Linked DNA regions of Homo sapiens. The protein of the gene in region 1 purifies or fractionates together with the protein of each later gene. This does not show direct contact. Each region holds a gene or a part of one and is shown in the gene's direction. Other genes may lie near its edges.

Evidence for each region.
Region 2: the proteins of PTPRO (region 1) and GTF2IRD1 purify together in Homo sapiens (affinity purification with mass spectrometry; one large-scale study listed by BioGRID and IntAct). This does not show direct contact.
Region 3: the proteins of PTPRO (region 1) and LMAN1 purify together in Homo sapiens (affinity purification with mass spectrometry, with the first as the bait; 2 studies listed by BioGRID). This does not show direct contact.
Region 4: the proteins of PTPRO (region 1) and TFRC purify together in Homo sapiens (affinity purification with mass spectrometry; 2 studies listed by BioGRID and IntAct, with this or other methods). This does not show direct contact.
Region 5: the proteins of PTPRO (region 1) and PTK7 purify together in Homo sapiens (affinity purification with mass spectrometry; 2 studies listed by BioGRID and IntAct, with this or other methods). This does not show direct contact.
Region 6: the proteins of PTPRO (region 1) and LNPEP purify together in Homo sapiens (affinity purification with mass spectrometry, with the first as the bait; one large-scale study listed by BioGRID). This does not show direct contact.
Region 7: the proteins of PTPRO (region 1) and DNAJC3 purify together in Homo sapiens (affinity purification with mass spectrometry; 2 studies listed by BioGRID and IntAct, with this or other methods). This does not show direct contact.

Annotation. Positions count from the first base shown.
Region 1 is NC_000012.12:15,595,008-15,598,507, forward strand, and holds the end of PTPRO (receptor-type tyrosine-protein phosphatase O isoform a precursor), read left to right. Parts: coding exon 1-34; 3' UTR 35-50; exon of another isoform or gene 51-1,082; 3' UTR 1,083-3,324; downstream 3,325-3,500.
Region 2 is NC_000007.14:74,600,006-74,603,105, forward strand, and holds the end of GTF2IRD1 (general transcription factor II-I repeat domain-containing protein 1), read left to right. Parts: intron 1-1,038; coding exon 1,039-1,175; coding exon of another isoform or gene 1,176-1,292; exon of another isoform or gene 1,293-2,289; intron 2,290-2,359; coding exon 2,360-2,428; 3' UTR 2,429-2,600; downstream 2,601-3,100. UniProt on the Homo sapiens protein: May be a transcription regulator involved in cell-cycle progression and skeletal muscle differentiation. May repress GTF2I transcriptional functions, by preventing its nuclear residency, or by inhibiting its transcriptional activation.
Region 3 is NC_000018.10:59,328,266-59,331,765, reverse strand, and holds part of LMAN1 (protein ERGIC-53 precursor), read left to right. Parts: intron 1-226; coding exon 227-348; intron 349-636; coding exon 637-673; 3' UTR 674-3,500. UniProt on the Homo sapiens protein: Mannose-specific lectin. May recognize sugar residues of glycoproteins, glycolipids, or glycosylphosphatidyl inositol anchors and may be involved in the sorting or recycling of proteins, lipids, or both.
Region 4 is NC_000003.12:196,072,091-196,075,590, reverse strand, and holds part of TFRC (transferrin receptor protein 1), read left to right. Parts: intron 1-230; coding exon 231-432; intron 433-1,465; coding exon 1,466-1,661; intron 1,662-2,712; exon of another isoform or gene 2,713-2,771; intron 2,772-3,438; coding exon 3,439-3,500. UniProt on the Homo sapiens protein: Cellular uptake of iron occurs via receptor-mediated endocytosis of ligand-occupied transferrin receptor into specialized endosomes. Endosomal acidification leads to iron release.
Region 5 is NC_000006.12:43,131,814-43,135,313, forward strand, and holds part of PTK7 (inactive tyrosine-protein kinase 7 isoform a precursor), read left to right. Parts: intron 1-202; coding exon 203-351; intron 352-607; coding exon 608-874; intron 875-3,500. UniProt on the Homo sapiens protein: Inactive tyrosine kinase involved in Wnt signaling pathway. Component of both the non-canonical (also known as the Wnt/planar cell polarity signaling) and the canonical Wnt signaling pathway.
Region 6 is NC_000005.10:97,026,580-97,030,079, forward strand, and holds part of LNPEP (leucyl-cystinyl aminopeptidase), read left to right. Parts: intron 1-37; coding exon 38-178; intron 179-1,153; coding exon 1,154-1,235; intron 1,236-1,822; coding exon 1,823-1,954; 3' UTR 1,955-3,500. UniProt on the Homo sapiens protein: Release of an N-terminal amino acid, cleaves before cysteine, leucine as well as other amino acids. Degrades peptide hormones such as oxytocin, vasopressin and angiotensin III, and plays a role in maintaining homeostasis during pregnancy.
Region 7 is NC_000013.11:95,683,639-95,687,138, forward strand, and holds part of DNAJC3 (dnaJ homolog subfamily C member 3 precursor), read left to right. Parts: intron 1-3,500. UniProt on the Homo sapiens protein: Involved in the unfolded protein response (UPR) during endoplasmic reticulum (ER) stress.

The DNA of each region.
Region 1 (3,500 bases):
TGATGTCATATACGAGAATGTTAGCAAGTCCTAGTTCAGAATCCGGAGCAGTAAGTGGAGAAGAGCTCTCCACGAGTGCTCAGTCTTAGAACTATTAGAGGGGGATGTGATGGATGGGACAAAAGACAGCAGTAGCCATTTGTATTGACTCTGACTTCACATGAGTATTTCTTCCCAGCTCCTGGCCTCACATGGGTGGTCACAGGGAGAAACAAGTACTGTAGCAGATCTTTGAGTTTCAATGCACCTTGGTTGGTGTTGGCAACAAACAGGAGCTTCTGCACATCATGATGACTTTACCTCCATTCCCTCTACCCAGAACCCTAAATTATTCTGTTATTGGATCTGTGCCTGTAATATCAGGATACTACCATCCAAATCTATCTAGATATCTTGTGCAAATATTTTATTGATTACAAGGGCTGTATACGGGGTTACAAAAAGACATGAGCTGGATTGGACACTCCTAAAACCAAAAACAACAGTGACAATAGAGTCTCAGGATAGCAGAGTCTGAAAATACCTTGGTCTCCCCCATTATGTGAGCCCTTACTTGAGAGCTTCATGAAGACACTTGTAACATATTCAACGTCCTGTACTCCAGTTTTGACTACGAGATCAGATTTTGGAGGTGTAAGTAAACTTGGCTGAGGTAACAGTAATCTGCCCATTTAGTTCAGTAAACAGACTGTAGAGTGTCTGACTATACTGGGGGAAGAGGAGCCAATGACAGGGTAGGGAGATGACAGTGGTGCATGATGGGAGAATCATGAAAGTCTGGGAAGCATATGGACCAGTGGGAAGGATAGGATTAGCACTGCACCTCTACATCCATCAAGAGAGACAGAGCGCACAATGGAGCAGGAAGGATAAAAAATAAAGAAAGACAGAGAGAAACAAATTTGCTGGGAGAGGGAAAGACATTCAGACCCACAGAAAGGAGGCAGCACACAGAGAAAGATGCACAGATCAACCCACATCTGCATGGGTTGTGAGACTGAGCATAGTGAGAGCAGTGGTGGAGCAATAGAAGATTGCTGTGACACCAGGCTGCTTACTGTCTTTCTTTGTCTCATTCACAGGAGAGGACATGATGTGCGCCCATCCTCCCTTGCTTCCAGATTGTTTTAGTGGGCCCTGATGGTCATTTTTCTAAACAGAGGCCCTGCTTTGTAATATGTGGCCAAGGAGATAATTTATCTCACAGAAGCACCGGGAAGACTTAGCCTTAAAGAGCCTACAGTGTCCTTTTGGACTCTTTCACTTCGGGACATTTAATAATGGACCAAATTCAACAGAACACCAGGAAGGTCAAGACGCTCTCCAAAGGGCAGGAAGTACAGCACTTCCGAAGAGTTTAGTTGGCCCTTTGCTGGTTGGGCTGAGTTTTTTATTTTTAAGTGTTTGTTTTTCAGTGCAATAATTTTTGTGTGTGTGTGATTCTTATCAGAAAGTTGAATTGTTTTCTGCCTACACCGTTCATCAGCCCCATAACCCAGGAAGGAACAGGCATTGTTAGCATCAGATTATACCTCATTATTAAAAGGAGGCATGGCCACACATGAAGAAATGGTCATTCTACTTCAAAGAAATTGAGCCAGCACTATCTGTACTCCAACATTACCGGATCTGGATTGGGGAGGTTGGTCAGGGAAGAGAGGGGTTCTACCCACAGATCAACTGTGTAATCTTTTACTATTCAAGCTATAATTCAGCTTCAAAGTAGAGTAGAAAAAAAATTGTCTTAACTGTTCTAGTTCTTGATGGTTTTCTTCCTTATTAACAGTTGGTGTTTCTTCCTTGGCCCTTTTGGACTAATGTTACTGTCCAAGTTCTTTCTCAAGAAACCACATCTGGTTCAGAAGAGTGTCAAGTTGGACTCTTTGAACTCTGTTGCTGTCTGAGCAATCGTGGTGCCTAGACTTTGCATTCCTTGTTCTGTTGACCTGCATACATGTGAGAGCTATTTCTTTAAGAACTATATAGGCTGTGAAAACGCACTTTCTTTCCCCCAAAGAGCTGGGAATTTATGAAGTTATGGCAATGAACTGCAGCATGCTGGGACAATTATTTGACTACTTTTTTTTGTAATATTGTCAAATGTCTCTATGGATTCTGACAGAGATTTCTTTTTGTTTTGTTATTCTTTTGGTTGTCAGTTTCATTTTAACGAGTGTAACTAGTAACATTTTATTCTTTGGATTTTGTATAATTACAGTACATGATTGTGTATTGTGACATGAATGCTGTCAAAATGACATTGATGGCATTGTGAAGCCTGTTACTTTGTGTCACTTCCTGATAAATAAGAGGTGATGACATGGATATACAACAGAAAACACTTTGAGTTGAAAGTAAACACAAGCTGGCTGCTTCCCTGTGGCAACTGTGGCTATTGTGAGCCTCCGTGTGTGTGCTTCCAGGAGGCTTTGCTCCTCTTCATGCACCCGACACTGCCCCTTCCCTGGCTTCCCTCCATCCCTGATCATCTTCATGAAGCCACAGATATAAGATCAGCTTAATATTTTATCAGTGACCTTAGTGTTGGTGAAGGATGCCAAATGAACAGCTCTGCACCCCACCGTCTCTTGTCACTGAAAAGGCTTGGCCATGGCAGACCTTGGCAGAGTTTCTTGCAAGATCTGGCCAGTGAGTCTCAGTTTCACCTTGCAGGGTGAATGGCAGAGGATGCCCATACCCTGCAGGTTAACAGCTTGGGCTCCTCAGGGGTTGTCAGTTCCTACTCACCTCCCTGCTACCACCTCCTCCTCTTCTTCTCACCCCCGACTCCTTTATTTCCCTTTTTGGACATTTTAATAATGTGTCGCACCATTCTCAGGAACAAACATGGTTAATGAAAGGTGGCAAAGGGATGTGTGACATTCTTAGATTTTCACACATGGGCAGTCAGGAGTGAAATGTGCAACCTTGGAAGAGCTGATACAATGTATGGTAAGCTGAAGTACGTTTCCAACACTGCTGCTCAGAGCATACAGAAGTTTTGCATCCTGGAACATTGCTTCCCATGAAACAAAGCACTTCATAAATATTTTATGTTTTTCTTGAGCACCCTTTCAAGGTAGGGATCAAATAGTGCCAGATCAATTTTCCCAAAAGGAAAGAGGAAGTATCCAGAGTTTAGACTGAAGGCTTAGAGTCAAAACTACAGGAAGGTCACACTGTTCTCTGGAACACTGTTGCTCTTCAGTTTGTAGAGTTTATGATGGAAAAGGCATCAGTCTGTCAAAAGACTTGTTTAATCCTGATAATGACTTTGGAATTATCTCTCCTGGGTCTCAGTTAATAAACTGAAGAATGACCTAATCATAACTCCATATCTTGCAACAGGTATAAGAAGTATCAGATACGATAATTGACCCAAAGGTGCTTTGTGTCTTGTTCTCTCATGTATGTTCCGTAAGGCTACTCTAACCAGTTCTGTTTCCACACCAGGACCCAACTTTAAGCATTCAGAAGGGAGGCTTCCAGAGCCTCTGTAT
Region 2 (3,100 bases), on another chromosome or scaffold:
GGGTGCTCGTGAGTGAAATGTGAATAGGATCTTGGAGGGTTGCTGGGAGGATCCCAGCAGACAATGTGCAAAGCATTTAGCACAGTGCCCAGCACCCAGAAAATACTCAGAAACTGAGAATGCGATTAATATTGTTGCCATGAGCCAGGCACGGTGGCTCATGCCTGTAATCTCAGCATTTAGGGAAGCTGAGGCAGGAGGATTGCTTGAGGTTGGGAATTGGAGACCAGCCTGGGCAACATAATGATGCAGAAATACAAAAAGTTAGCCAGGCATGGTGGCGCGCACGTATAGTCCCAGCTACTCGGGAACCTGAGGTGGGAGGATTGCTTGAGCCCAGGACTTGGAAGCTGCAGTGAGCTACGATTGCACCATGGCACTCCAGCCTGGGCAACAGAGTGAGACCCTAAAAAACAATATAGGCCAGGTTCGATGGCTCATGCCTATAATCCCAGCACTTTGGGAGGCCGAGGTGGATGGATCACTTGAGGTCAGGAGTTCAAGAGCTGCCTGCCCAACACGGTGAAACCCCATCTCTACTCAAAATACAAAAAAATTAGCTGGACGTGGTGGCAGACACCTATAACCCCAGCTACTTGGGAGGCTCAGGCACTAGAATCGCTTGAACCCAGAAGGCAAAGGTTGCAGTGAGCCAAGATCGCGCCACTGGACTCCAGGCTGGGTGACAGAGCGAGACTCCATCTCAAAAAACCAGAAAGAGAGAGGACCTAGGGCCTAAGGGGTGAGCTTGCTGGGGAGGAGGAGGGACACATGGGGATGAGGATACGGTGTTAGCAAAGGCAGGCAGGCCAGCAAGAGCAGGAGGCCGGGGAGAGTGGGCCCTCGGGCTTGCTTTGGGAAGGAGGCTGGACATGTGGGCTCTGGACAGGTGGGCCCTGACCCCCAGGGGATCAGGAGCCTGAAATCCTGAAAGGGGGACTCGAAACCTTAAGACAGAGCACTTTTCCAGGGAGCTCAGGAGGCTGAGACAGAAAAGCCTCAGCTTCCAGTGTCAACAGCCTTTTCCCCTCCTTCCAGCCAAAGACAGCAGCATTCCCAAGCGCAAGAGAAAGCGGGTCTCGGAAGGAAATTCCGTCTCCTCTTCCTCCTCGTCTTCCTCTTCCTCGTCCTCTAACCCGGATTCAGTGGCATCGGCCAACCAGATCTCACTCGTGGTAAAGTTGCACCGATTTGGACTCCGGCACTCATCTCTGTGGCCCTCACCCCTCTGTCTGGCAGGGCCGTCTACTCTGGGATGTGGGCCCAGGGGACGGGGAGGCACTGGGCTTTGAGTGGGGACCTTCCGGCCTCGGGGGTTATAGATGCATCCACCTGTCTCACCCAAGAGGTAGCCCATCCTTCTCGTGGGGTACTCACAGGCACTCAGGCAGGAATTCACATCCTCGCTGGGCAGATGGGCCGGCTGAGGTCCACCTGCCCACACCCTTCAGCCGCACCAGAGCTGGAGACATGAAAAGACATGGCTGGCGGGTGCAGTGGCTCACGCCTGTAATCCCAGCACTTTGGCAGGTCAAGTCGGGTGGATCACCTGAGGTCAGGAGTTTGAGACCAGGCTGACCAACACGGGGAAACCCCATCTCTACTAAAAATACAAAATTAGCCGGGCAAAGTGGGGCATAGTGGCTCATGCCTGTAATCCCAGCTACTTGGAAGGCTGAGATAGGAGAATCGCTTGAACCTGGGAGGCAGAGGTTGCAATGAGCCGAGGTCGCGCCATTGCACTGCAGCCTGGGCAACAAGAGTGAAACACTGTCTCAGAAAAAAAAATTAGCCAGGCATGGTGGCACGTGCCTGTGGTCGCAGCTACTTGGGAGGCTGGGGCAGGAGGATCATTTGAGCCCAAGGGGATTGAGGCTGCAGTGAGCCAAGATCGTCCCATTGCACTCCAGCCTGGGCAAGAGAACGAGACTCCATCTCAAAAATAAATAAATAGGCTGGGTGTGGTGGCTCACGCCTGTAATCCTAGCACTTTGGGAGGCCGAGGCAGGCGGATCACTTGAGGCTCAGGAGTTCAAGACCAGCCTGGCCAACATGGCAAAACCCCGTCTCTACTAAAAATAGAAAAATTAGCCGGGCATGGTGGCGGGCGCCTATAATCCCAGCTACTCGGGAGGCTGAGGCAGGAGACTCGCTTGAACCCGCGGGGCCAAGGTTGCAGTGAGCCGAGATTGCATCACTGCACTCCAGCCTGGGCAGAAGAGTGAAACTCCATCTCAAAAAAATAAAAAATATAAATAAATAGCCTCTGAGAAAGCTCTTCCAAAAGCAGAACTAAGCATTTTGGGTTTGTTCCGCATCACCTGGAGTCCTAATCCAGTCCCTTTGTCCCTCTCTCTAGCAATGGCCAATGTACATGGTGGACTATGCCGGCCTGAACGTGCAGCTCCCGGGACCTCTTAATTACTAGACCTCAGTACTGAATCAGGACCTCACTCAGAAAGACTAAAGGAAATGTAATTTATGTACAAAATGTATATTCGGATATGTATCGATGCCTTTTAGTTTTTCCAATGATTTTTACACTATATTCCTGCCACCAAGGCCTTTTTAAATAAGTAAAAAAAGAAAAAAAAAAAAAAGAGTGTTGCCTTTACTTTTACGGTCACTGTTTCATGTTCTCTTTTGGATCGTGGCCGCAGCTGTCACTGGGGACAGGGTCAGGAAACGCAGCTCAGGTGGCCTGCCAAGGCCCTCCTTCTTCATCACAGCAGAGGTAGTGTCCAGGAAGACCCCAGAGCTCTCTGTGCTCCTGGGAGCACGTGACCTCAAGAAGAAAAGCCACGGAAGGAAAATGTGCCACGGGGCCGGGCGTGGTGGCTCATGCCTGGAATCCCAGCACTTTGGGATGTCGAGGTGGGTGGATTGCTTGAGGTCAGGAGTTCGACCTCATTGGCCTGTAATACCGATGCTTTGGGAGGCCAAGGTGGGAGGATTGCTTGAGACCAGGAGTTTGAGATGAGCCTAGGCAACATAGTAGAACCCTTTCTCTAGAAAATGTTAAATGTGGCTTACACCTGTAATCCCAGCACTCTGGGAGGCTGAGGCGGGTGAATCACCTGAGGTCAGGAGTTTGAGACTA
Region 3 (3,500 bases), on another chromosome or scaffold:
GCAGTGAGTTAGTGACTGGGTAGTAAAAAGGTGGAGGCCTTCCAGTGTCAACTACTCCTTCAAAAACAGTTGTCAGTAAAAGTTAAGGGGATAGAAGGTTTTCTGGGGGATGAAAAAATGAAAATACTTGTTTATATAGCAAACAGTTTTATAAAGATTTCACATTTATTTCTTTTTCCAAACTGCTATTTTGACTAACTGTAATAGAAAGTCATTTGCCTTACAGCCATCAAATGAAAAGCCGAAATGCCCAGAACTACCACCATTTCCATCATGTTTGTCTACGGTCCACTTCATTATATTTGTTGTGGTGCAAACTGTATTATTCATTGGTTATATCATGTATAGGTAAGTCTCTTGATAAAATGTGACCCAATATTTTTCTGCATCTGTTTAATTAGAAATATTCAACTAAGTTATCTATGTTCATAATACAATTTTCACCACCTATAAAATTAAGTTTATTGTGATTTCTGTTCATTTCAGTTCACATAAAGTGCACGTGTAGAATATATGTTTATCTTAATGCGTTGTATACTTCAAAAGGCATTGATATTTTAATTTTAAATAGTCCTGTTTCTTTCCAAAGTTAAGCGTATAGAACTTCTTTAAGTGTTTGTTTCTTTTTTTCATTAGGTCTCAGCAAGAAGCAGCTGCCAAAAAATTCTTTTGACTACCATTTTCCTGTGTACTTCATCTATTTGTGTACAAAATGATGTCGTTTTGAGGGAATTTAAGTATTTAAATTGCTTCATAGTCTAAATTATTAATTTTCTTAATAAAATAACTGTTTAAACATTGATTTGCAGTTAAGAATAAACCTTAAAGCAAAGACAACCACATTTTAATTTGTTCACAGTATGTAAATCTGTCTAAATTTCAGTGAATTTCTGGTCAGTATGATGCAGCCTCTGAGCAGAATATTGACCAGTAAGAGGGTAAATAAAGTGGGGGCAACCCCTGGATATGAATGTTACCCCCTAAGTCTCCAATATTGCAGGTTTCCCTGTATAACGTAAACACACTTGCCCTCATGCCTCCCAGAATATGAGGTCTAATTAAGAAGTCCCATCAGGTTTATTTTGTAACCAAAGTCTTTTTTAGAGGTCAGACTTCCTAATCAAAGGCCTGGGCCTGCAGTCCTTTCATCTTAATGCAACTTCCTTTGAAATCAAAGAATATTTTGTCTGAGAGCTTTAAGGATCTGGTAATAGACTTCAAAATGTTAAGTGAAATTTTTTTTTCCTCTATTTATCAATGATATATTTCACTTTTAAAGGAAATTTTAGAGGAAAATTAATAGCTGCTTTTTGCCTAAAAAACCTTGTGGGTGGAAACATTCCTCTGAGAATGGCTTTTATAGGTATTTTGCCTGGTAATGTATTCATTCATGATTGCCCATATTCTTGAATGTCTTCATTCCAATGGGGTCAGGTCAATATTATGAAAATAATTTTTATATTTATATTTGTAACTTAAGGAATTTATTTCTCCCTTTACTACAGCATGTAAATTCAGCTCAAATTGCATGATCTGAGGATTTAAATTCACAAAACCTGCCACTACATTCTGGTTTACATTAGTTACTTCATGCTGGCTGGGGTTAGTGACCATTTGCATACTCTTTTAAATCAAGGAGGCTGTAGTAGAAGCAGTTTTAAGATTCTTGAAGGCAAAATTTGAAAAACAGTGAATACTTCTAATTGTTTCCTTTTAGTGCCAGAACTAAGGACATTGTGAAGCACTTGTTAGTAAACTTAACCTTGAAATGTCAGACTGGAAGGAGTTTTTATAGTCTTTGTGCATACTTCTAGGTATTACAGAAACAGTCTGTAAATGACATTTTAAGATGCAAATTTAATTCTGTTCACAGCTGATTTATACTGATTTTTGCTGCCTTCAAAATACTCTTTTACTTCTTTTAGCTAAAATGGTTGTCTTTCATTTGCCATAGAATTCCAAACAATACTATCTTATAAAATAGTACTGTTGAATTATTCCAAGCCTCCCTAGGTTTGCTCTCAAATGTCATTTACAGATTGGGCTAACGACCTAAAATCTATATATAAAGACTTTCTGAAGAACTCTGTATTATAGCAATACCAAACGAGTGCTGTGTGTGCAAACAGTCTGGCGTTGCTTTTTATGTTGATATTTATCCTAGAACACTGAAAGAGAATATGCCAGTGATAACTCACTTTACTTCAGTCATTTCAACACAGAAAATGCTTCTCTAGCATTTTTCTTTTGTAGTGTTAACATTTTGAAATTCATGTTTCAGAGGCTTCATCATCACAGAATTTACTCTTGCTCCATGAAAAAAAATTAAATACCTTCAGAGGAATATTTAAGTTGTAAACTATGAAACTTGAGAAATCCTCTTGAGATAAAAGGCTGCCAAATCCAGTATTATAAAGTCCATGGTCATATGTGCCTGTGCATTAAAGGAATACCAGATCTATGCAGTATACATTTTTCAGGCTGAAATTCAAGGGGAATCATTCTGATTATTCTTACTACAAATGGAGATGGCTATTATGAAACAGCATGAGCATGAGCCTTTTATCTTTTATACTTAGTGATATACTTTGCTTGAAAATCACTCAGCAAAGTAGTTCACATGATGTGTATCATATTTGAAGTGTGGTTTTTCTCAAAATCATTGACTTTAAGGAGCTCATTTCTGAACAAAAAGGTTTGCTCTGTGGAAAAATCAATCACTGCCAGGATTCTTTCATTTCTGTACTATTTTGTATAATTGAATTTGTTCACTTCTCTCACACCAGCAAGTGTTTTACAGGTGCCTTGGATTAAAACAAAATTGATTTTAAAATTTTTATGTAAGTCATTGTGTCTATGATGCCACTTTTAAAAGGAAAATGCAATTGCGTAATGGCTTATATCCTTATTTAATGTACCTATTTGTGTTCTAATAATTGTTTGAATGTTTTATTCAGCTTAAAACTTTACCATGAAGTCATAAACAGTAAACAATGTTTTGTTATGTATTAAGGGGATATCAGTGTTTCTCAAAGTATGATCCATGGACCATCTGGGTCATGGCGCCTGGTTTCAGACAACCTGAATCAAATCTTAGGGGTGGGGCTTTGGGATGTCATTGTTCAATAGGCACCTCAGGAGATTCTGAGCACACCAATGTTTGAGAACCACTAAAATGAGGAGTGGGAAAAAAAAAATAGGTGTTTTGTTAATTTAGAGCTGAGCTGAGAAGATAATATATTTTTATTGTCAATGACATTAACAGATATGCACTGATTCTTTTATACCTACAATTTACTTAATGTTCCTTTTATTAAAACGCGTGGTTCATGAGCAACTACAGACTGAATCCAGATTATTACCTGTTGCTTTCAGTATTTTCGTGATGGCTTTTAATCTTATGAAATCATCTTGAGATCATTCATGGTCAAGCCATGAAAACTCCCATCTTCAAGCCTGCCTGCTAAAGCTTCTTTGCCTTCCTGATTGTGATTATGGTA
Region 4 (3,500 bases), on another chromosome or scaffold:
CCTTGTCTCAAAAAAAAAAAAAAATTTACAAAAAGGGAGAGACTGACTGAGAAGACCAGTGTGAACTAGCCCTTGACTGGGCCCAGGGAAGAATGTTGGTTTGAAAGGAGAACACCCTAAGGAATATATAGCAAGTTATAGTAATGGCCCAATAACAAGCATATACCTAAACGAGCTTTTCCTAAACATTCCCGTGCCTGTTCTTCATCATGCCTTTTTCCGCAACACAGTTTGGTGGAGAACCATTGTCATATACCCGGTTCAGCCTGGCTCGGCAAGTAGATGGCGATAACAGTCATGTGGAGATGAAACTTGCTGTAGATGAAGAAGAAAATGCTGACAATAACACAAAGGCCAATGTCACAAAACCAAAAAGGTGTAGTGGAAGTATCTGCTATGGGACTATTGCTGTGATCGTCTTTTTCTTGATTGGTGAGAATGACCATTCCAAACTTCAATGTTTTCTATAACCAACTCTGGGAAGTCTGTTATGTCAGCTCAGCATATAGTTATTTTGTACCTTATTTTTTTTTTTTTTTTTTTTGGAGACAGAGGCTTACTCTCTTGCCTAGGCTAGAGTGCAGTGGCACCATGTTGGCTCACTGCAACCTCAGCCTCCCAGGTTTAAGCGATTCTCTGCCTTAGCCTCCTGAGTAGCTGGGACTATAGGCGCCCACGACCACACCTGGCTAATTTTTTTTTTTTTTTTTTTGAGTTGGAGTCTCACTCTGTGGCTCAGGCTGGAGTGCAGTGGCGTGATTTCGGCTCACTGCAATCTCCGCCTCCCAGGTTCAAGCGATTCTTCTGCCTCAGCCTCCTGAGGAGCTGGGACTACAGGCGTGCACCACCACACCTGGCTAATTTTTGTATTTTTAGTAGAGACGGGGTTTCACCATGTTGGTCAGGCTGGTCTCTAACTCCTGACCTCGTGATCTGCCCGCCTCAGCCTCCCAGAGTGCTGGGATTACAGGCATGAGCCACTTTCCCGTCCACTTTATGCCTTTTTAAGTGCCACTAGGAAGACAATCATGAGTAGATTCTATACCTGTCATTGAATTTAATCTGGTTGGAAAGAGAGACCCATGAATTATTTCAATACGACGTGCAAGTGTTTTCTTTTTATTTATGTATTTTTTTGTTTGCTCCCACTCCACCAGGAAGCAAATGCTACGCTAGAAAATATCCGCAGGACACTGGCGGTGCAGCAGCTCAGTCTCATGTTTCAAGGGGGTCTTTTGGAAAAAACTACCTATGTTTTGAATAGGTAGCTATTTGAAATAAAGCTAGTATATAATTTATTAAGTGGTTTAAAGTATACAAAACTGAGATGCATTATATACTTTAAAACTACTTAGAATTTGATGAAAACCAGTATTTTCAAGGCTTACCTGAAAATATTAACAGATTAACAGGGATAGATTACAAATGAAATTCTGAGTTCAGCTCTGGAACTTTGTCTCTTTAGGATTTATGATTGGCTACTTGGGCTATTGTAAAGGGGTAGAACCAAAAACTGAGTGTGAGAGACTGGCAGGAACCGAGTCTCCAGTGAGGGAGGAGCCAGGAGAGGACTTCCCTGCAGCACGTCGCTTATATTGGGATGACCTGAAGAGAAAGTTGTCGGAGAAACTGGACAGCACAGACTTCACCGGCACCATCAAGTGAGTGCCAGCTGCTGTGCAAGTATCTAGACAAGTAATTCAAGAATTATGATAGGCCACGGGGAAACAATAATGGTGACACTGTGGGGAATGGCTTGTTAGAGAAGACAAGACTTGTCATGTTTAGCTAAAGAGGGGAAGGGGCCTGTAAAAAACTGAAACTATACTGGTAGGGGAAAAGGTAGAACTTCTCTGGGGAGTCTCCTTTTTCTTAAAAAATTAATAGGCCCTTGATGTTTTCCCCATCTTTGTAGCTTATTGCTTGCTGTCATTCTCTGGCTCTGATTTTTCTTCTTAACCTCTTGTAACGTTGTACTAAGCTCTGCTTTGCTGACAAGGACATCAGTAGCTTTTCTCTGTTTTAGGAAGCAACACATGCCAGAAGTAGCCTTTTTCATCTCCTTGATCATGGGTAACTGCCTGCCTTAAGTCTCTAGTGCTTCTTAATTTCTGTGATACTCACCCATTAACCCCTAGGCCAGTCAGTATCCAGAGACAATGTCTCCCTCTGGTGGAGGCTGGAATACGGTGGCGTGCTCTCATCTCACCGCAGCTTCATCCCCCTACCATAGCCTCCTGAGTAGCTGGGACTATAAGCACGCAGCACCACACCCAGCTAATTTTTTTTTTTTTTTTTTTAAGAGATGGAGTCTCACCATGTCTCCCAGGCCGGTCTGTTCTTAGATTTTTATTTATTTACTTATTTATTTTGAGATGGAGTCTTACGTGTTGCCCAGGCTGGAGTGCAGTGGCACGATTTCAGCTCAGTGCAACCTCTGTCTCCCAGGTTTAAGCAATTCTCCTACCTCAGTCTCCTGAGTAGCTGAGATCACAGGCTTGTACCACCATGCTCTGCTAATTTTTGTGGGTTTTTTTTTTTTTTTTTTTTTTTTGCAGAAACGGGATTTCACCATGTTGGCCAGGCTGGTGTCTAACTCCTGACCTCAGATGATCCTCCTGTCTTGGCTCCCAAAGTGCTGGAATTACAGGATGAGGCACTGCACCTGGCCAAATTTCTATTTTATATTTATTTATTTATTTTATTTGTAATGGGCTTTCTGGCAAAAACTAGAAAGCATGCTAGACAAATTCTAAAAGAGCTGTAACACTTGTCCATAGAGTTTTACTATCTTTGCACATACATGCCTCTGTGCAAAGAATAAATTTATCTTTTCCTTTTTGCAAGCTTCCTACACTTACAGTGGTACTATAATTCTTTAGTCTTAAGTTATGGCATTTTCTACTTCATCTAGTTGATGCTTTTGTGTTTATTTACTGTACACCAGACCTTATGGTTAAAGTGAGAGTATAGTCCACCCCACAAAAATGTAAGAACTAATATGCTGAGTAAATAGAAAGAAGTATGGGAGATCGGACCAAGGAGCAGTTCTGCTTCAGGGTATTCAGATGCTTCACAAGTAGGTGAGAATTGAAACTATGCACTCTGTTCAGCACAGTATTACTATCTTAGATTTTATAGTAGATCTGGAAGCTACTCATTTCCCCTAAAACTATCCTAAGCAGATACATTGTGTTATGATGAGGCTCTTGAAGGAGTGCTTTGTAGTGGGTAAAGAAGCTTTGAAGTTACAAGATTTGGGGCAAAATTTTTTTTCTTTTGTGATATTCTGGTCAGTCTAGAAGTTTTGGGTCACAGTTCATTTATCTGAACTATGAGGGATAATATTTTGCTTTCAAAACAATTTGTTTAATCCTTGACTTAAATGTTTATTTTAAAGTAAACTTAAGTTCATTTAAAAGGCATTTTCTCCTCCAGGCTGCTGAATGAAAATTCATATGTCCCTCGTGAGGCTGGATCTCAAAAAGATGAAAATCTTG
Region 5 (3,500 bases), on another chromosome or scaffold:
GGAACACACACCTGCACGTGCACCTGAGCAAGTGTATGCAGGCACACACACCAGTCTGGAGTGTCAGCTTCCTTCTCTCTGCCCTGTTCCTGGTCGATTCCTTACTACATTTCCGACTTTGCAGGAAAGGGGTTCCCTTGCATTCCTTTCCAGAACTAGGCCTATTGGCCACTTTCTCCAAATTGCACTCTCCCCTCTGCAGCCCCCCACACCTCCGCAGAGCCACAGTGTTTGCCAACGGGTCTCTGCTGCTGACCCAGGTCCGGCCACGCAATGCAGGGATCTACCGCTGCATTGGCCAGGGGCAGAGGGGCCCACCCATCATCCTGGAAGCCACACTTCACCTAGCAGGTGAGTCTCTGGGTCTGGGGTGCTGATGTGGGAGGCTGCCTTTAACATTTTTGGCACATAGAGATTTAGGCTTCTGTTTTTACTCAGCCGCTTGGAGGGCAGGGGAAGAAAAGGATGCTGGGAGTAGGAAGAGGATATGCAGAGGGCTGCAGGGGAGGGTTTGTGCTGGGAAAGGGCCTAGGCTTGCTGTGGGAGAACATCATGTACCCTGAGACCCACAATAATTGGGCCATTCCTCCTACTTATGTCCTTGCAGAGATTGAAGACATGCCGCTATTTGAGCCACGGGTGTTTACAGCTGGCAGCGAGGAGCGTGTGACCTGCCTTCCCCCCAAGGGTCTGCCAGAGCCCAGCGTGTGGTGGGAGCACGCGGGAGTCCGGCTGCCCACCCATGGCAGGGTCTACCAGAAGGGCCACGAGCTGGTGTTGGCCAATATTGCTGAAAGTGATGCTGGTGTCTACACCTGCCACGCGGCCAACCTGGCTGGTCAGCGGAGACAGGATGTCAACATCACTGTGGCCAGTGAGCACCTTTGCCCTGAAGGTCAAGGAGAGGTGGAGGGGAACACAGGTCTGGGTGTGATGGACAGAGGCTTCCCTGGTACTCACCTGAGGTCCTCTCAGTTCTGGGCCCTGCAGGCTTGGGAATCAGTTCACTACTGGGAGTCGGTGTAGACAGTAGAGAGCCAGGCACAGGGGTTAGGGTGGGTGCTCCAGAGGAAATAGTGACAGCCCTCACAGAAAAATGGTCCTCTGGGTACAGAGGAAAGAGCAATAGACTAGGAATCTAGAGACCTGGGTCCCACTATGCTCCCAATGCACAGAGTGACGATGGTAGCAAATCACCCACCTTACTGGGGTTCAGTCTCCTCATCCATAAAATGGAGCCAGTAATCTACTACCTACCCCACAAGGTGGTTGGAAAGGTCAAATGAAGTAGATGAAAATGATTTTTCTTTTTTTCTTTTTTGGGAGGTAATAGTGGACAAAATTATAGGTGATTTTTAATTTGTTTTAGTTTGTTATGCTTTCCAAATTTCTTTACTAAACATATTACTTATGAAAAAAAAGAGGGGGAGAAAAGCAAGACATATGACTGAAAGTACACATGATAAACCCTTTATATCAGGCTGGGCGCGGTGGCTCATGCCTGTAATCCCAGCACTTTGGGAGGCCGAGCCGGGCGGATCACAAGGTCAGGAGTTGGAGACCAGCCTGACCAACATGGTGAAACCCCATCTCTACTAAAAATACAAAAATTAGCTGGGCGTGGTGGGGCACACCTGTAATCCCAGCTACTCAGGAGGCTGAGGGAGGAAAATTGCTTGAACCCAGGAGGCAGAGGTTGCAATGAGCTGAGATCGCACCGTTGCTCTTCAGCCCGGGCAACAGAGTGAGACTCCATCTCAAAACAAAACAAAACAAACCTTATATCCTCACTACAGGCATAGGGATTTATTTGTTTACTTATTTCTTTATACCATGCCTTGTTCCAAACCTTTTGTGGTAGTTTAAAAGGATACACAATAAAAATTACAATATGCACACAGAGACACACATACATACAAACTATTTTGCAATCTGCTTCTTCCACTTACCTTTATGTTACTATTATCTTTCCGAGTGGGTAACTTTGCAAAAAGATTTGAATATGAAAGTGGCTTTGTAAATGTGAAGTTGTGATGCTAGTATTCCCATTAGGATACTGAAATCTTAGAAGACATGCACCTATACTCAGGCCGTGATTTGGGTGGGAATCACAGCACATGTGTAACGAGTGCTCAGGACACTCACAGTGCAGGTGCAAAGGCAAGATGCACAGTCAAGCCTTCCTCCAGTTGAGGTCTGAGAATCACCTGCTTTCATTAGGGATACTTTTTCTTCTTTTGTTTGAGACGGAGTCTCACTCTGTCACCCAGGCTGGAGTGTAGTGGTGTGATCTTGGCTCACTGCAACCTGCGCCTCCCAGGTTCAAGTGATTCTCGTGCCTCAGCCTCCCAAGTAGCTGGGTTTAAAGGTGTGTGCCACCACACCTGGCTAATTTTTGTATTTTTAGTAGAGGCGATGTTTTACCATGTTGGCCAGGCTAGTCTCAAACTCTTGACCTCAAGTGATCCACCTGCCTCGGCCTCCTAAAGTGCTGGGATTATGGGTGTGAGCTGCCATGCCCGGCCTCATTAGGGATACTTTTTAAAACACAGGCCAGGCGTGGTGGTTCACACCTATAATCCCAGTGCTTTGGGAGGCCGAGATAGGAAGATCTCTTGAGCCCAGGAGTTTGAGACCAGGCTGGACAAAATAGTGAGACCTTGTGTCTACAGAAATTTAAAAAGTTAGCTGGGCGCGGTGGCTCACGCTTGTAATCCCAGCACTTTGGGAGGCCGAGGTGGGTGGATCACGAGGTCAGGAGTTCGAGATCAGCCTGACCAACATGGTGAAACCCCGTCTCTACTAAAAATACAAAAATTAGCTGGGCATGTTGGCACTCACCTGTAATCCCAGCTACTTGGGAGGCTGGGGCAGGAGAATTGCTTGAATCCAGGAGGCAGAGGTTGCAGTGAGTCGAGATCGTGCCATTGCACTCCAGCCTGGGTGACAGAGCGAGACTTTGTCTCAGGAAAAAAAAAAAAAAAAATTTAGCCAGGTATGGTGATGCACACCTATAATCCCAACTATTTGGGAGGCTGAGGCTGGAGGATCATTTGAGCTCGGGAGCTGGAGGTTCCAGTGAGCTATGATCACACTACTGTACTGGAGCCTGGATGACAGCAAGACCCTGTCTCCAAAAAAATGTCTAAGACATTGCTGGAGCCTTGAAAAAAAGAAAAAAAATGCAGAATTCGGGGCCCCACTCCACAGCTTCCAACCCAGGCTCTAGGGGTGGGACCCAGGTAGATGTGTATTTAACAAGTGCTCTGGGTGATACTTCATGTGTGTTCAAGTTGGGGAACTCTGGCTTTGATCAGTCATTCCACAGATGCTGACTGAGGCTGACACTGAGCCATGCCAGTGTCCCTTGCTGTGCTCTGAGAAGGAGGCCTGTGGCATTTGAGAGTGTGTGATGCAAACAGGGCCAGATCAGGTGCTGGGTGTTAGAGGGTAGAGCCCAGAAGACGGAGAGCTCTGGGAATGCATTCAGTCAACAGAGA
Region 6 (3,500 bases), on another chromosome or scaffold:
TAATAATTTTGGAGGCTAAATCTGCTTTGCTCTTCAGGTTAATGAAAAGTAGCCTGAATGGAGATAACTTCCGAACACAGAAGCTGTCTTTTATCATTAGAACAGTGGGTCGACATTTTCCTGGACACTTACTGGCATGGGATTTTGTCAAAGAGAACTGGAATAAGCTTGTACAGAAGTAAGTTTCTCAGAGAATTATTAACTTTTAGTATTCTCAAGTTGTGCATTTGAAAAAAGCTCCCAGTGTTTTGGCTCACAGAAGTTAGGATTTGCTGTGAGAGGAAAAATACTTCCATGACAGTTTAACTGAAACATCCGGAAATTTTCACATTTGTTAACATAATTCCATAGCATGAATCATTTAACAGTAGCATTCCATCTAAGTTCTAATTAAGCCTAGCCTTGCTTGGCACCAGGTTACTTAGCTCAGCGTGGCTACAGACTATTTCATAGCAACCATTTAGCTATGCATATTGAAAAATACCTCTGTATGGCCGGGCGCGGTGGCTCACACCTTTAATCCCAGCACTTTGGGAGGCCGAGATGGGCGGATCACGAGGTCAGGAGATCGAGACCATCCTGGCTAACACGGTGAAACCCCATTTCCACTAAAAATACCAAAAATTAGCCGGGCATGGTGGCGGGTGCCTGTAGTCCCAGCTACTTGGGAGGCTGAGGCAAGAGAATGGTGTGAATCTGGGAGGCAGAACTTGCAGTGAGCCGAGATTGTGCCACTGCACTCCAGCCTAGGCAACAGGGCGAGACTCCGTCTCAAAAAAAAAAAACAAAAAGGAAAATACCTCTGCATTGCCAAGGCATCAGTTAAGAACTCACATTCAGCTAGATGCAGATGTAGGTTTTTTGCTTCTTTCTCTCTTTTAAATCAATAATGGCATTTCTGGGTGTACAGTGTGATCTTCGACAATGTTAAGCGGATTAATTGTCTGCATGTTCTGAACTCTTCCCTTTTTCTGCCCACCTTTCCTTCCCACCGACAATAAGTATGCATAGGGCTACCCCGGTTTCCTCAGTTGCAGTTCCGGGAGGAGGATTCCACTCTGGCTTTGGCATTAAAGACTTTTCCTTGCACTCAGGAACAACGCTTTACCAGCAGCTGCCTAATCTTTTTGCTCTTGTTTTTGTGTTTCTTCAGGTTCCCTCTGGGGTCCTATACCATACAAAATATTGTTGCTGGATCAACTTACCTGTTTTCAACAAAGACACATTTATCTGAGGTTGGTTTTATAAAATGATAATACAGAGACTGGGCAACCCTCCGCACACCCGGACCAGGCTGCTCAGTTTTAGTGAGATGGTGGATTTTCATGCTAATTCCTTCTCTTATCTCTGTCTTCCTTTATCAGTACTAATGATTCTGCATTGTGATTACTTCTAGAGGGTGGCATATATGATAATGAGGAAAAAATCTGATTCCATTCTCTTCCCTTGTCTCCCTAATACAAATAATTTAAGTGGTCATAAAATTGTTTGGAAGAATTGCATTCTTGGGGTGAATTCATAGCACCAAGCCTTTGGACTCTACTTTATTTATTGTTACTTAAACATCTCCTTGGTTCCATTTTAAGTTAGAAAAATGTATCTGTGTGGGAGTAAAAAGATTTCCTTTTTAAAATCATTTCAGATATCACCATACTTGATTGGGAACTCCATGTAGATACCTTGAATATTAAAGTACTTCTTTCTACTGCTTTCAAGATAGCAGCACAGCCATCACTAAGTTAAAGCTTATTTTAAAAGCTGGGGTTACCTGAGGTTTATCGTCCTTTTCTTCTTTTGAAATTCTTCTGTGTGAAACTTACAGGTTCAGGCATTCTTTGAAAATCAGTCAGAGGCAACCTTCCGGCTTCGTTGTGTCCAGGAGGCTTTGGAAGTCATTCAGTTGAATATCCAGTGGATGGAGAAGAACCTCAAAAGTCTCACATGGTGGCTGTAGCATGCACAACCGCACCTCATTTTGTTGCCCATTCAGAGAGCTTGTAAGCTTGGGCTCTGCCGCTTTTGCAAAAGCCAAGGTAAAGCCAGGATCGCTGCCAAGTTGTTTGCACTCTTTGGAGTTCTAGTTAGCTCAGGGCCTGACTGTATTTTTCATCCATCTTTTCTGAAGTGTCTTTGGGCAGTATGTAGTTATTTATTACAAAATTATATTCACCTAAATGCCAACCATCTACAAAAACAATGAGTAATTTTTCTACTTTGAAGATACACAGATGGGGACAAAAACCCTGTTTTGGAATTCTGTTCTATTCCTCAGTATCCAGAAAGTTACTGACACAGTAAAACAAGGAAAGTTCTACCCTAAGAGCCGCCATCACTTCAGGCCGCTGGTTTGTCAGCCATCTGTTGCTTCTTATTGATAGATGGCATTGGAATGTGGTACAAAGTTAGCTCTGAAGAATATGGTAACGAAGACAATAAAGCATGCACTGTAAGAACTGACCTCAGGTGTGCAGATCTACTTTGATTTGGGGTTTTGATTAATTCTTTATTTTTCTGAAAAAAAGTTTAAATAATGTCTGTAACTATTGTGTTTTTTTCCTGCCGAATAGCCAGGTGCTACAGATTTTTAAAATTTTTGTTGTATTGAAAAGCTAAACAAGGCCAAAAGGTTAAATTTTTTGAATATTTAAGACTTTCTTTTTCATCTTTTATAGCGTTACCATAGGAAACTGTTCCAAACTGAGTTAGCTTTAATTATAATTATTTTATTCATAAATGGTGATAGTCCCCAGATCTGTACACCTTTATCACTCCCTGCCGTAGATATACTTTAGGTTAGTATTTCTACATTCGTGGCAAGCATTTTGGTAACACCAGTGGTTTTCATTGTGACTTTTATCACTATCACTAAGAATGCAATTTAAGTTGCCTTTTGGCATCATAGATCATAGAAACTTTCTCTCTGAATCATACCCATGTGTGAATTTTCATTTTATATGATAGTGTAGCATATTAGAAGCATATTTTAAAACAGAGCCTTTGAGAAATTGAAAAACAATTATTTGAAGTTCACCATAGTACCTTAAAGGAACAAAGAGAATGTGGGATAGGAGTAACTTGAATTCGTGTTTAGTATGGTGGGCTTTGAATTTTTTTCACTATCAAAAATAGTGCTTTTGTTTAGTTAAAAATTGTAGTTTTTCTTTTTTTGTGTGTCCAAACTAACATAAAAGGAGTGGTCAAAGAAGGAAAGAAGAAAAATGAGGGAGGATGTCCGAAACTGTATGGCATTTTACTCCTTCTGAAAGAGAAATACTGTACTTGAATTTTTGAGCTATGCAGACTTATACCTAGATTGTTGTGTTTCTTTGATTCTTAGGAGAAAAGCTTTCTTCCTAATAATTCTTGAGAACTTTATATTTTGTTTGAAAACAGTTTCTATGTACATAAAAAGGGTATTTACCCATTTGTGAGCACTTAAAACACTCCACAGAGTCAGACAGTGGGAAAGGTCACCCTTTTTTTATTCGGCAGGTATCAAG
Region 7 (3,500 bases), on another chromosome or scaffold:
AGTTCCGGCTGGGCACTGTGGCTCACGCCTGTAATCCCAGCACTTTGGGAGGCCGAGGTGGATGGATCACGAGGTCAGGAGTTCAAGATCAGCCTGGGCAAGATGGTGAAACCCCGTCTCTACTAAAAATACAAAAAAAAAAAAACTTAGCCTGTTGTGGAGGTGGGCGCCTGAAATCCCAGCTACTTGGGAGGCTGAGGCAGAGAATTGCTTAAACCTGGGAGGCAGAGGATGAAGTGAGCCGAGATTGCACCACTGCACTCCAGCCTGGGTGACAGAGCAAAACTCCATCTCAAAAAAAAAAAAAAAAAAATTACCCAGTTCCGGGTATTTCTTTATAGCAATGTGAGAATGGACTAATACAGAAAATTGGTACTGGGAGTGGGGCATTGCTATAAAGATACCTGAAATTGTAGAAGGAAGCAACTTTGGAATGGGGTAATGGGCAGAGGTTGGGACAGTTTGGAGGACTCAGAGGAAGACAGGAAGAGGAACGAAAGTTTGAAACCTCCTAGAGACTTGTTGAATGGTTGTGACCAAAATGCTGATAGTGGTATAGACAGTGAAGTTCAGGCTGAGGAGGGCTCAGAATGACCGCAGATGAGGAACTTATTGGGAACTGGAGTAAAGGCCACTCTTGCTATGCTTTAGTAAAGAGACTGGTGGCATTGTACCCCTGGTCTATGGATCTGTGGAACTTTGAACTTGAGAGAGGTGATTTAGGGTATCTGGTGGAAGAAACTTCTAAGCAGCAAAGTGTTCAAGATGTGACCTGGCCTCTAGCAGCCAGTGCTCATATTCATGAACAAAGAAATGATGTAAAATTGGAACTTACATTTAAAAGGGAAACAGAGCAGAAGAGTTGGAAAATTTTCAGTCTGACCATGTGGTAGAAAAGAAAAACCCATTTATAGGGGAGTAATTCAAGCAGACTGCATGAATTTGCATAAGTAAAGAGGAGCCAAGTGCTGATAGCCAAGACAATGGGAAAAAGGGCTCCAAGGCATCTCAGCGACCTTTAAGGCAGCTCCTTCTATCATAGGCCCAGAGACCTAGGAGGGAAGAACAGTTTCCTGGGCCAGGGCCCTGCCAGCCTCAGGACACTGCTGCCTGCATCCTAGTTACTCCAGCTCCAGCCATGGCTGAAAGGGGCCCAGATATAGCTCAGGCCTTCAGACGGTGCCAGCCCAAACCCTTGGAAGATTCCACATGCTGTTAAGCCTGCAGGTGCTGAAAGCCAAGAATTGAGGCTTGGGAGCCTCAGCCTAGATTTCAGATATATGGAAAAGCCTGGATGTTCAGGCAGAAGGTTGCTGCAGGGGCAGAGCCCTCATGGAAAAATCTCTACTAGGGCAGTGCAGAGGGGAAATGTGGGGTTGGAGCCCCCAACAGAGTCCCCACTGGGGCACTGCCTAGTGGAGCTGTGAGAAAGACCACCATCTTTCAGACCCCAGAATGGTAGATCCGCTGACAGCTTGCACCATGCACCTGGAAAAGCTGCAGCCACTCATTGCCAGCCCTTGACAGCAGCCGCGTGGGCTGAGCCCTGCAAAGTCACAGGAGTGGCACTGCCCAAGGCCTTGGGAGCTCACCCCTTGCTGCAATATGCCCTGGATGTGAGACATGGAGTCAAAGGAGATTATTTTGGAGCTTTAAGATTTAATAACTGCCCTGCTGGGTTTTAGCACGTGCATGGGGCCCGTAGCCTTTTTCTTTTGGCCGGTTTTACCCTTTTGGAATGGGACTATTTACCCAATGCCTATAATCCCATTGTATCTTGGAAGTAATTAACTTGTTTTTGATTTTATAGGCTTATAGGTGGAAGGGACTTGGCTTGTCCCAGATGAGACTTTGGACTTTTGAGTTAATGCTGGAATGAGTTAAGACTTTGGGGGCTGTTGAGAAGGGATGATTGTATTTTGTAATGTGAGAACATGATATTTTGGAGGAGCTGGGGCGGAATGATATGGTTTGGATCTGTGCCCCACCCAAATCTTATGTTGAATTGTAATCCCTAATGTTGGAGTTGGGGCTTGGTGGTAGGTTTTTTGTTTTTTTTTAGAAATCTCCATATTGTTTTCCATAGTGGTTGAACTAATTTACATTGCTGCCACCCATATATGTGTTACAATTTCTTCACCTCCATGCTAACATCTATTTTTTTTTAAGCTTTTTAGTAATAGCCACTCAGACTTGTGTAAGATGATTGATATTTCATTGTGGTTTTAATTTGCATTTCTCTGATGATTAGTGATGAACATTTTTTCATGTTTGTTGGCTGCTTGTATGTCTTCTTTTGAGAAATGTCTCTTAATGTCCTTTGCCCACTTTTTTTTTTTTTGAGACAGAGTCTTGCTCTGTCGCCCAGGCTGGAATGCAGTGGCACGATCTTGGCTCACTGCAAGCTCCGCCTCCCAGGTTCACGCCATTCTCCTGCCTCAGCCTCCTAAGCAGCTGGGACTACAGGTGCCTGCCACCATGCCCGGCTAATTTTTTGTATTTTTAGTAGAGACAGGGTTTCACTGTGCTAGCCAGAATGGTCTTGATCTCCCGACCTTGTGAGCCACCCGCCTTGGCCTCCCAAAGTGCTGGGATTACAGGCGTGAGCCAGTGCGCCTGGCCCTTTGCCCACTTTTTAATGGGGTTCTTTGTTTTCTTCTTGTTGAGTTGTTTGAGTGTCTTGTAGATTCTGGATATTAGTCCTTTGTCGGAGGCATAATTTGCAAATGTTTTCTCTCATTCTGTAGTTTGTCTCTTTGCCCTGTTGATTATCTTTTGATGTGCAGAAGCTTTTTAGTTAAGTCCCATTTGTTTATTTTTGGTTTTGTTGCATTTGTGTTTGGGGTCTTCGTCATAAGTTGTTTGCCTAGGCCAATGTCCAAAATGTTTAATCTATCTTGAGGTAGTTTTTGTATATGCTGGGAGACAGAGATCCAGTTTCTTCTGCATATGGCTAGCCAATTTTCCCAGCACCATTTATTGAATTAGGGTGTCCTTTCCCTGTTGTTTATATTTGTCAGCTTTGTCAAAGATCAATCTGTTGGATGTAAGTATGTGGTTTTATTTCTGGGGTTCTCTATTGTAGTCCATTGATCTGTGTGCGTATTTTTGTACCAGTACCATGCCATTTTAGTTACTATAGCCTTGTAGTATAATTTGAAGTCAAGTAATGTGATGCCTCTGGATTTGTTCTTTTTGGTTAGGATTACTTTGGCTATTCATGCCCTTTTTTGGTGCTGTATGGACTTTAGAATTGTTTTTCCTAGTTCTCTGAAAAATGACATTGGTGATTTGATAGGAATTGTGTTGAATCTACAGATTACTATGGGCAGTATGGTTATTTTAATGATAGTCTCCAAATCCATGAGCCTGGGATGTTTTTGTGTTTATTTATGACATATATGATTTGTTTCATAAGTGTTTTGTAGTTCTCATGGAGATCTTTCACCTCCTTGGTCAGTGTTTTCCTAGGTATTTTATTTTTTTGCATATGGCTTTTG